2 linked regions of the Homo sapiens genome follow. The protein of the gene in region 1 interacts with the protein of each later gene in a pairwise test. Each region holds a gene or a part of one and is shown on either strand. Other genes may lie near its edges.

The links. The genes of interacting proteins can lie anywhere in the genome.
Region 2: the proteins of OSR2 (region 1) and PSMA3 interact in binary tests that used the Homo sapiens proteins (3 or more experiments, as listed by UniProt).

Annotation. Positions count from the first base shown.
Region 1 is NC_000008.11:98,947,442-98,950,020, reverse strand, and holds part of OSR2 (protein odd-skipped-related 2), read right to left. Parts: intron 1,849-2,579; coding exon of another isoform or gene 1,600-1,848; intron 1,505-1,599; exon of another isoform or gene 1,335-1,504; intron 1,183-1,334; coding exon of another isoform or gene 1,069-1,182; coding exon 413-1,068; intron 1-412. UniProt on the Homo sapiens protein: May be involved in the development of the mandibular molar tooth germ at the bud stage.
Region 2 is NC_000014.9:58,243,565-58,247,642, reverse strand, and holds the start of PSMA3 (proteasome subunit alpha type-3), read right to left. Parts: upstream 2,801-4,078; 5' UTR 2,723-2,800; coding exon 2,702-2,722; intron 1-2,701. UniProt on the Homo sapiens protein: Component of the 20S core proteasome complex involved in the proteolytic degradation of most intracellular proteins. This complex plays numerous essential roles within the cell by associating with different regulatory particles.

The DNA.
Region 1 (2,579 bases):
CTCTGGGGCGCACCTGGGTGGAGGGTGGGGGGTGGGGGGAGGGACGAAACCCAACAGAAGTAGCCCGACTGCAGCCAGGACCGGCACCCCAGGGTACCTGGGTTCTGCCTGCACCACTCCCCACAGCACCGGGAGGAGACAGGATAACCATCCCAGGACTAAGGCCAACAGATTGTTCCTGTCCAAGACTGAGGAAAGGCCCTCCCTCATTCCAAACAAGAACGTAGCAAGAGCCGCTGGGGGAAAGAAAGGGTAGATGTTGGGAATTAGCTGAACCGGGCTGAGGAGCGTGACTGAGGGTGTATTTTAGATCACAGGGGATTATAATGACACTGGGAATGTCTATCAGGACTCGGTGTGTCCAGGACAAATTCGCTTTCCCTCTCCCAGCCATCCTCCTTGCCCGCCTCACCTGTGATCCCGCAGGTGATCTTGCCTCCGGAAGGCCTTGTGGCAGATGTCACACGTGTACGGCCTCTCGTCCGTGTGGGTCCTCTCATGGATGAGCAAATTGTAGGATTTGGTAAAGTGTCTGCCGCAAAACTTGCAGATAAACTCTTTTTTCGTTTTGGAGGGCAACCTTCCTCGAGAGGGCTTTCTGTCCGGAGTCAATTTACTGAGGCCCGAGATGGGGCTACCCAGTCCTGGGCTCAGCTTGCTCAGGTCTCCCATCTTAGGCGGATCCTCTTGCGTGGCAGCCACCGCCAAATTGGCAAAGTCAAAACGGGGCCGGTCCTTGTGCAGGGCTGGGAGGACGTGGGCAATGGCCCCCTGCTTGGGGTGGAATAGGTGGGTGGTAAAAGGCAGGGCCGGGAAGGGGAAGCGCGCGTCCACGAGGCCCTGCGCCGCCGCCATCTCCGTGATGGTGGAGCGGGTGATCTCGTGCACATTGGGATACCCCAGCGTCCAGTGGTTCATGTGCATGGTCTGTACCGCGCTGAGACCGTACAGGCCCTGCAGGTGGTCCACCGTGGCCGGGAAGGTGTTCACGGCCTGCAGGAAGGAGTAATTGGTGAGCTGCAGCGACGGGTGGAGCGGGATGGGCGCTGGCAGAGCCTTGCTCCCCATTTTCCGGGATGCTGGGGGTGCTGAGGGGACCAACCCTTTCTTCCAGGAATCAGAGGCCGGAGGGCGTGGGGCTCCGACAAAAACCCAGTGAGACAACAGCACGTAGAGAAAGCCCTAAAAATGGCAGGGAAGAGAGGGAGAGACCGTGACTATAATCCAAGGCTGCTCCTTCTGCCCTTTGGCACCTGCGCAGGTTACCACACCTAAGTCTCCCTCCCCACCCGACTCCAAGACCCCCCGAAAGCCGTGAGGGGACTGCGTGGCACCTTGGCACCTGCTCAAGTCCGCGTGCAGATCAGCCCGGGGCCAGAACAAGAAGTGCTCCACTGGCGAGCGCGTGCCCAAAGGAAAGAAAGTCGGATTCAGACTCTAGGCAGATACGGAGCGGAAGACTCCTCGGTCCCAGGAAAACGAAAGGCGGACAGCCGGGCAGCACCCAGCCCAGCCCAGCCCAGCCCAGCCCACCCTCCCCAAGCCTGTTAGGCGAAGCTCAGTCAACCGCAATGCCAATGCTAGCAGGCCGGGGCGAACCTCTGTCGCCGCTGCGCCTCGGAGCTCCTGGGAACGGTGGGTTAACGGATGGGTCGTGAGATCCCACGCGCTGCGCTGCCGCCGCGCCCTGTGGCCGCCTTTCCCGCGCTTACCCGGATGGCAAGCCGGCGTGCAAGAGCGAAGCCGGCGCGCTTCATCCTCCTGGGCCAGAGGGCCCTGGGAGGGGCTCACCTCGCCCCGCACTGACCTCGGAGGTTTTCTTTTTCCTTCCTCTGCCCTCAGCCCCATCTATCAGCGGTGACGGGCCGCAGGAAAGAAAAGTGACACCTCAGGGGCTGGATTCGGCCTAGAATCGCCCCCTCCTCCTATCCACGGGCTCTCCTCCCAACCCCCGACTAAGATCCCTTCCAGATGGTTCAGGCTCCCAGGGGGTGGGGTGGGGGCGGAGAACGTCCCTGAGGCCAGAGGAACCCCTTTTCCCAGACTGAGCGCCAAGCTCTTGGGAGGCCTGAGCTGCTTCCCGGCCTGGCACCGAGGAGCGACCCCTACATCCCTCCACCCGGGATGCCCCAGGAGACGAGAGAGGAGAGAGAAGAGAGGGGAGAGGAGAGAGGAGAGCGCTCCGGGGAGGGAGAGGAAAGGAGCTGCAGGGGAGCTGCAGTAGGCCAAGCACAGAGTGGCCCTGCTGGCTTGCAGGAACCTTGTCCGTTGGCCTGGAGGTGAGTGCGGCTGCGGTCCCACCACCAGGACGCCCGGCCTGGGCCTAAGCAGGGCGCTTCCCCTCTCTCCGTGCTCCCAATGGCAACACAGGTCTGATTTCAGACCCAGGTTCCCGGGATCACCTCACCTACATTCACAGCGGGCCCACCTTCTCCCACTACCAGCCCCTTTTTAGAAAGGAGTTCTGCCAGTTCGGGGGACCAGGGCCTTCCCTCTGAGGGCAGACCCCCAGGTGTAGGAGTCACGTTTCCCAGTCTGTGCCACCAACCGCCAAGCCTGGCATTTGAACCCAGCAGGAA
Region 2 (4,078 bases), on another chromosome or scaffold:
AAGACCTTGCTTTCAAGAGAGGAAAGGGAAACTTGTCAGAGCAGCAACAGTAGCTAAGATAAAGCTATATACCTTCGATTTCAGCTATTGAAGAGTAATGGATACAGGTCCCAGGTGAAGTCAGAACACTTTTCACCCAGACTACAAAACTCATTTTTGAAAAAGATTAATATGGGGCAGTAGAACCAGCACTGGAGTTCGAACATTTAAATTTGTAACGATAACTCTGCCATTAACAAACTAAAAGACTTCAAACAAATCATTCGGCATTCACCAAGCAGTTAATGAGTATCTATTATGTTACTATACGGAATACAAAGGTATACTCATTCATTAAGTCCTTCAGTTTCACATCAGACATGAATCTAGGTGCTAGAGGTACAGCAGTAAATCAGAAAAGGCACTAAGATGAAAATAAAAGAGTAAAGCAATGAACTACTACAGACTACATCATCAGGGAAGGCCTTCTGGGCAGTTATATTTAGGCTGAGTCAAACCTAAATGACAAGGAGCTAGCCATTTAAGATATGAAGGAAAAGTCTTCTTGACATTTGGCACAAAGATCTTAGGGTAGAAATAAGGCTAGCACAGTCAAGAAACAGAAATAAGGTCACTGTGTCCCAAGCACTGTAAGCAGCAGAAAGAAGAGTAAACTGTGTTAGTGAGGTAGCTGAGGGCCAGATTATGTTGTGTCTTCCAGGATGGAAAAAGGACTCTGTATTTTATTCTAAATGCAATGAGAAATTTAAGCAGGGGGAGTGGTATCATCTATATTTTTAAAAACATCATTCTGGCTTTATGCGGAAAATAAGCTGTAGAGAGAACAACAGAAGCAAAGATAAGGTGTTCCAAAGATAGCGGTAGTAGCTTAGACGAGAGAAGAGGTAGAAGGGAATATTTTTTGAGAGTAGAGTAAAATATAAAAATAATAAAAATAAACTTGCTAGGCCAGGCGTGATGGCTCATGCCTGTAATCCCAGCACTTTGGGAGGGTGAGGCGGGCTGATCACAAGGTCAAGAGATGGAGACCATCCTGGCCAACATGGTGAAACCTCATCTCTACGAAAAATACAAAAATTAGCTGGGCGTGGTGGTGCGCACCTGTAGTCCCAGCTCTTCGGGAGGCTGAGACAGGAGAATTGCTTGAACCTGGGAGGCACAGGTTGCAGTGAGCCAAGATCGTGCCACTGCACTCCAGCCTGGCAACAGAGCAAGACTCCGTCTCAAACAAAATAAAAATAAAAAAATAAACTTGCTAAAGCGTTGGTTCTGGGAGTAAAGTAAAAAAAGGAATTAAAGATGAATAACAGATTTTTTCATATGACCATTCACTGAGCTGAAGACTGTAGTAGATGCAAAATGGCAAGGTGAGGAGAAAACCCAGAGCTCTACTTTCACATGCAGTACGAAATGACTATTAAACGATCAAGTGAACAGACATGTCAAGCAGACAAACAAATATTCGTATCTGGAGTTCTTGGGAGAAATGAAGACAGAAGAAAAGCCTTCAGCAGTGGTACTTTCTGAGTCTGTTTCCTGATCTGTTAAACCCAGATCATTAACCCTACCATTGTTACTAAAATATCCCACATGGTTACATTATCAAGTATTCTTTAAAAGGTTTGTAGAATGAAATACTATTAATTCAAGGTAATATTAATATAATTGCAAAGTCAGTTTGCTACAAGATTTAATATTGAGCATTTACTTATCCAAGAAAAGTATGGCAGAACTTTAGCATTCATAACTGAATGGATTAAACCATTCCAGACATAAGTTGCCTATTATCAAATTTAGAACACCGGTACTTGAACTTAAGGCTGAGCATGAGAATCTTGTTAAGAAGTAGAAATTGAGGAACTGAGAAACTCATTATTCAATAACTCTAGTGCAAATAACCAATAAATCTTTTAGAAACTGTATTTTCTATATAGAGAAGTACATAAAAGGAGTAAACTGACTGCACATATGCAATACGTTTAACAAAGGAAAGCCAAACAAGTTAACAAGTCCCACTGCAAAATCCTCAACAGTCTATGAAAAGTCTGAAGCTGTTAAGTTCCTAAGTAACCATTTAAACGTTTACGGAATAAATGCCTACAAGCGCTGTTAGGTAATTTGTATAGGAAAAACGAGAAAGGAAAAACTGAAGGATTCATCAGATTGTTTTTCAGACCATTTTTATTAGTTCTGTTCCGACAGGATTTCCAGTGACTCTTAAACTGAGCGGTCAATGATCTGCACACTTAAAGACAGAGAAGGCCTGTGAATCAGCAGCACCCTAGGAACTGCAAACGCAGTCCACAAAAAGCACGATCTCCAGACCCCGGAATCCCAAATCTCACTGCCTCGGTGGTTCTCAAGAGAACACACTATTTCAAGCCCCACGAGTTTCCACTTTCGGTTTCCCTAAGTGGCTGAAGAAAGTGACTCAGCAATCCAAAGCGGCTCCAAACCTCACTGCGGCGACGCCAAGCCGGCTACACCTGCGCTGAAAAGCTTCAGGAGTCACGGTCACCTGAGACGCAGGCCTAGCATATAGGGGATAAAGACGACCGGTCTCCAAACAGCTGCAAATGGCCCACCCAGCCGAAGGCGGTCTCAGAGCACCCCGGGTCCGCGAACCCCATGTGGTCTGTCCGAGTTCCCTTCAACCCCAATCCTTAGGTTAAACTATTACACCGACAGACAGCGAACTCACCCCAGTGCCGATTGAGCTCATCGTGCTAAACCCAAAGGGACGCGTAGGGATTCCAGGCCCGGAGCGCTTCCCCTATACCACAGGATGCCGCAAACTAGTAACAGGCCCGCTCATTGGCTGAACTGCCAACCAATAACCTTTTTCTCTGTGGCTCGTTCCGCGGCTCCGGCCCCCAGGACGAGGAGTATTGTGGGAAAAAAGCGGGCCGCGAGAGGCTGGCGGCGCGCATGTGCAGAAGCAATGGAGGCGGGGTTGGGGAAAGCAAAGGCTCCTCCTTCGGTTCGCGTACTTTGAGCCGCTTGGCGTCGTGGTATCTGAGAAGCTGCTCTATTCCTTTCCTTGGAATTATTATTTATCTTTTATATTATTATTCTCTCCTCACTTTATTCTTTCTTTAAGCCAAAGGGAGAGATGCTGGTATACTCTCACAAAAAGTAGAAAAAGCAGTAGGCGCGAAGTAACCTGTCTTCCTCCGCGTCCCGACCCTGACCCAGAATCTTGATGGCATCCACTTCACCTCCTTGTGCTCAGGCTCTCGTGAAGTTTCACTTAAAGGGTATCGTCTTTGAATTCAGCTTAGAATTTTACGGAAGTATTAGTGCTCTTTCTATGAGTATAACGCTTTTTGGTAAGAGTTAAAGATAAGTCTGATTAAAGATATTTTTTGAGCGCTAGTATATTCCACGTGTTCAAGAAAAAGCCGTGAACAGAGCATACCCCCATTTCTAATGTAATTTCCATTCAGTGGGAATAAATAGGTAACAATAAATAAGCAAAATAGTAAGAAGAAAGAGTGCTTTAATAGACAATGGAGGTACTAACTTTAGGCAGTGTGCTCAGGGAATGACTTTCTGAGTGAGTGATATTTAAACTAAAATAGGGTAACAAAAGACAGTGGTTTAGGGAACAGTAAAAAACTTGGCTTGCGCTGGGAACTGTCACGTCAGAGTGACCTCTCATAATGATTAAGTGGGGAAGAATGACAGGAAGAGAACAAGTGCACAGGAGACCAAATCTTGAAGTGGTTTGAATTTTAATCCGATTGTAAATAGGGCATCAGCATTTTTTTTACTCCTAAATATTAATACGTCAGTGTGTATTTTCCCCCAACACAGGAACATTATTTCACAGAGACACAGTATTATTGTGAAAATCAGAAAATTACCAATACTATGATCTATCAACTTTATGCATTTTTTTTTTTTTTTTGGTAAATGGCCCAATAATGTCCTTCATAGCAAAAGAAAATCCAAGATCACACCTTGCATTCAGTTGTCATGTTTCCAATCTGCTTTAGTCTGGAAAATAGTTGCTTAGTATTTCTTCAGTTTTCATGGCATGAACACTTTTGAAGAATACAAACCATTTATTTTGTAG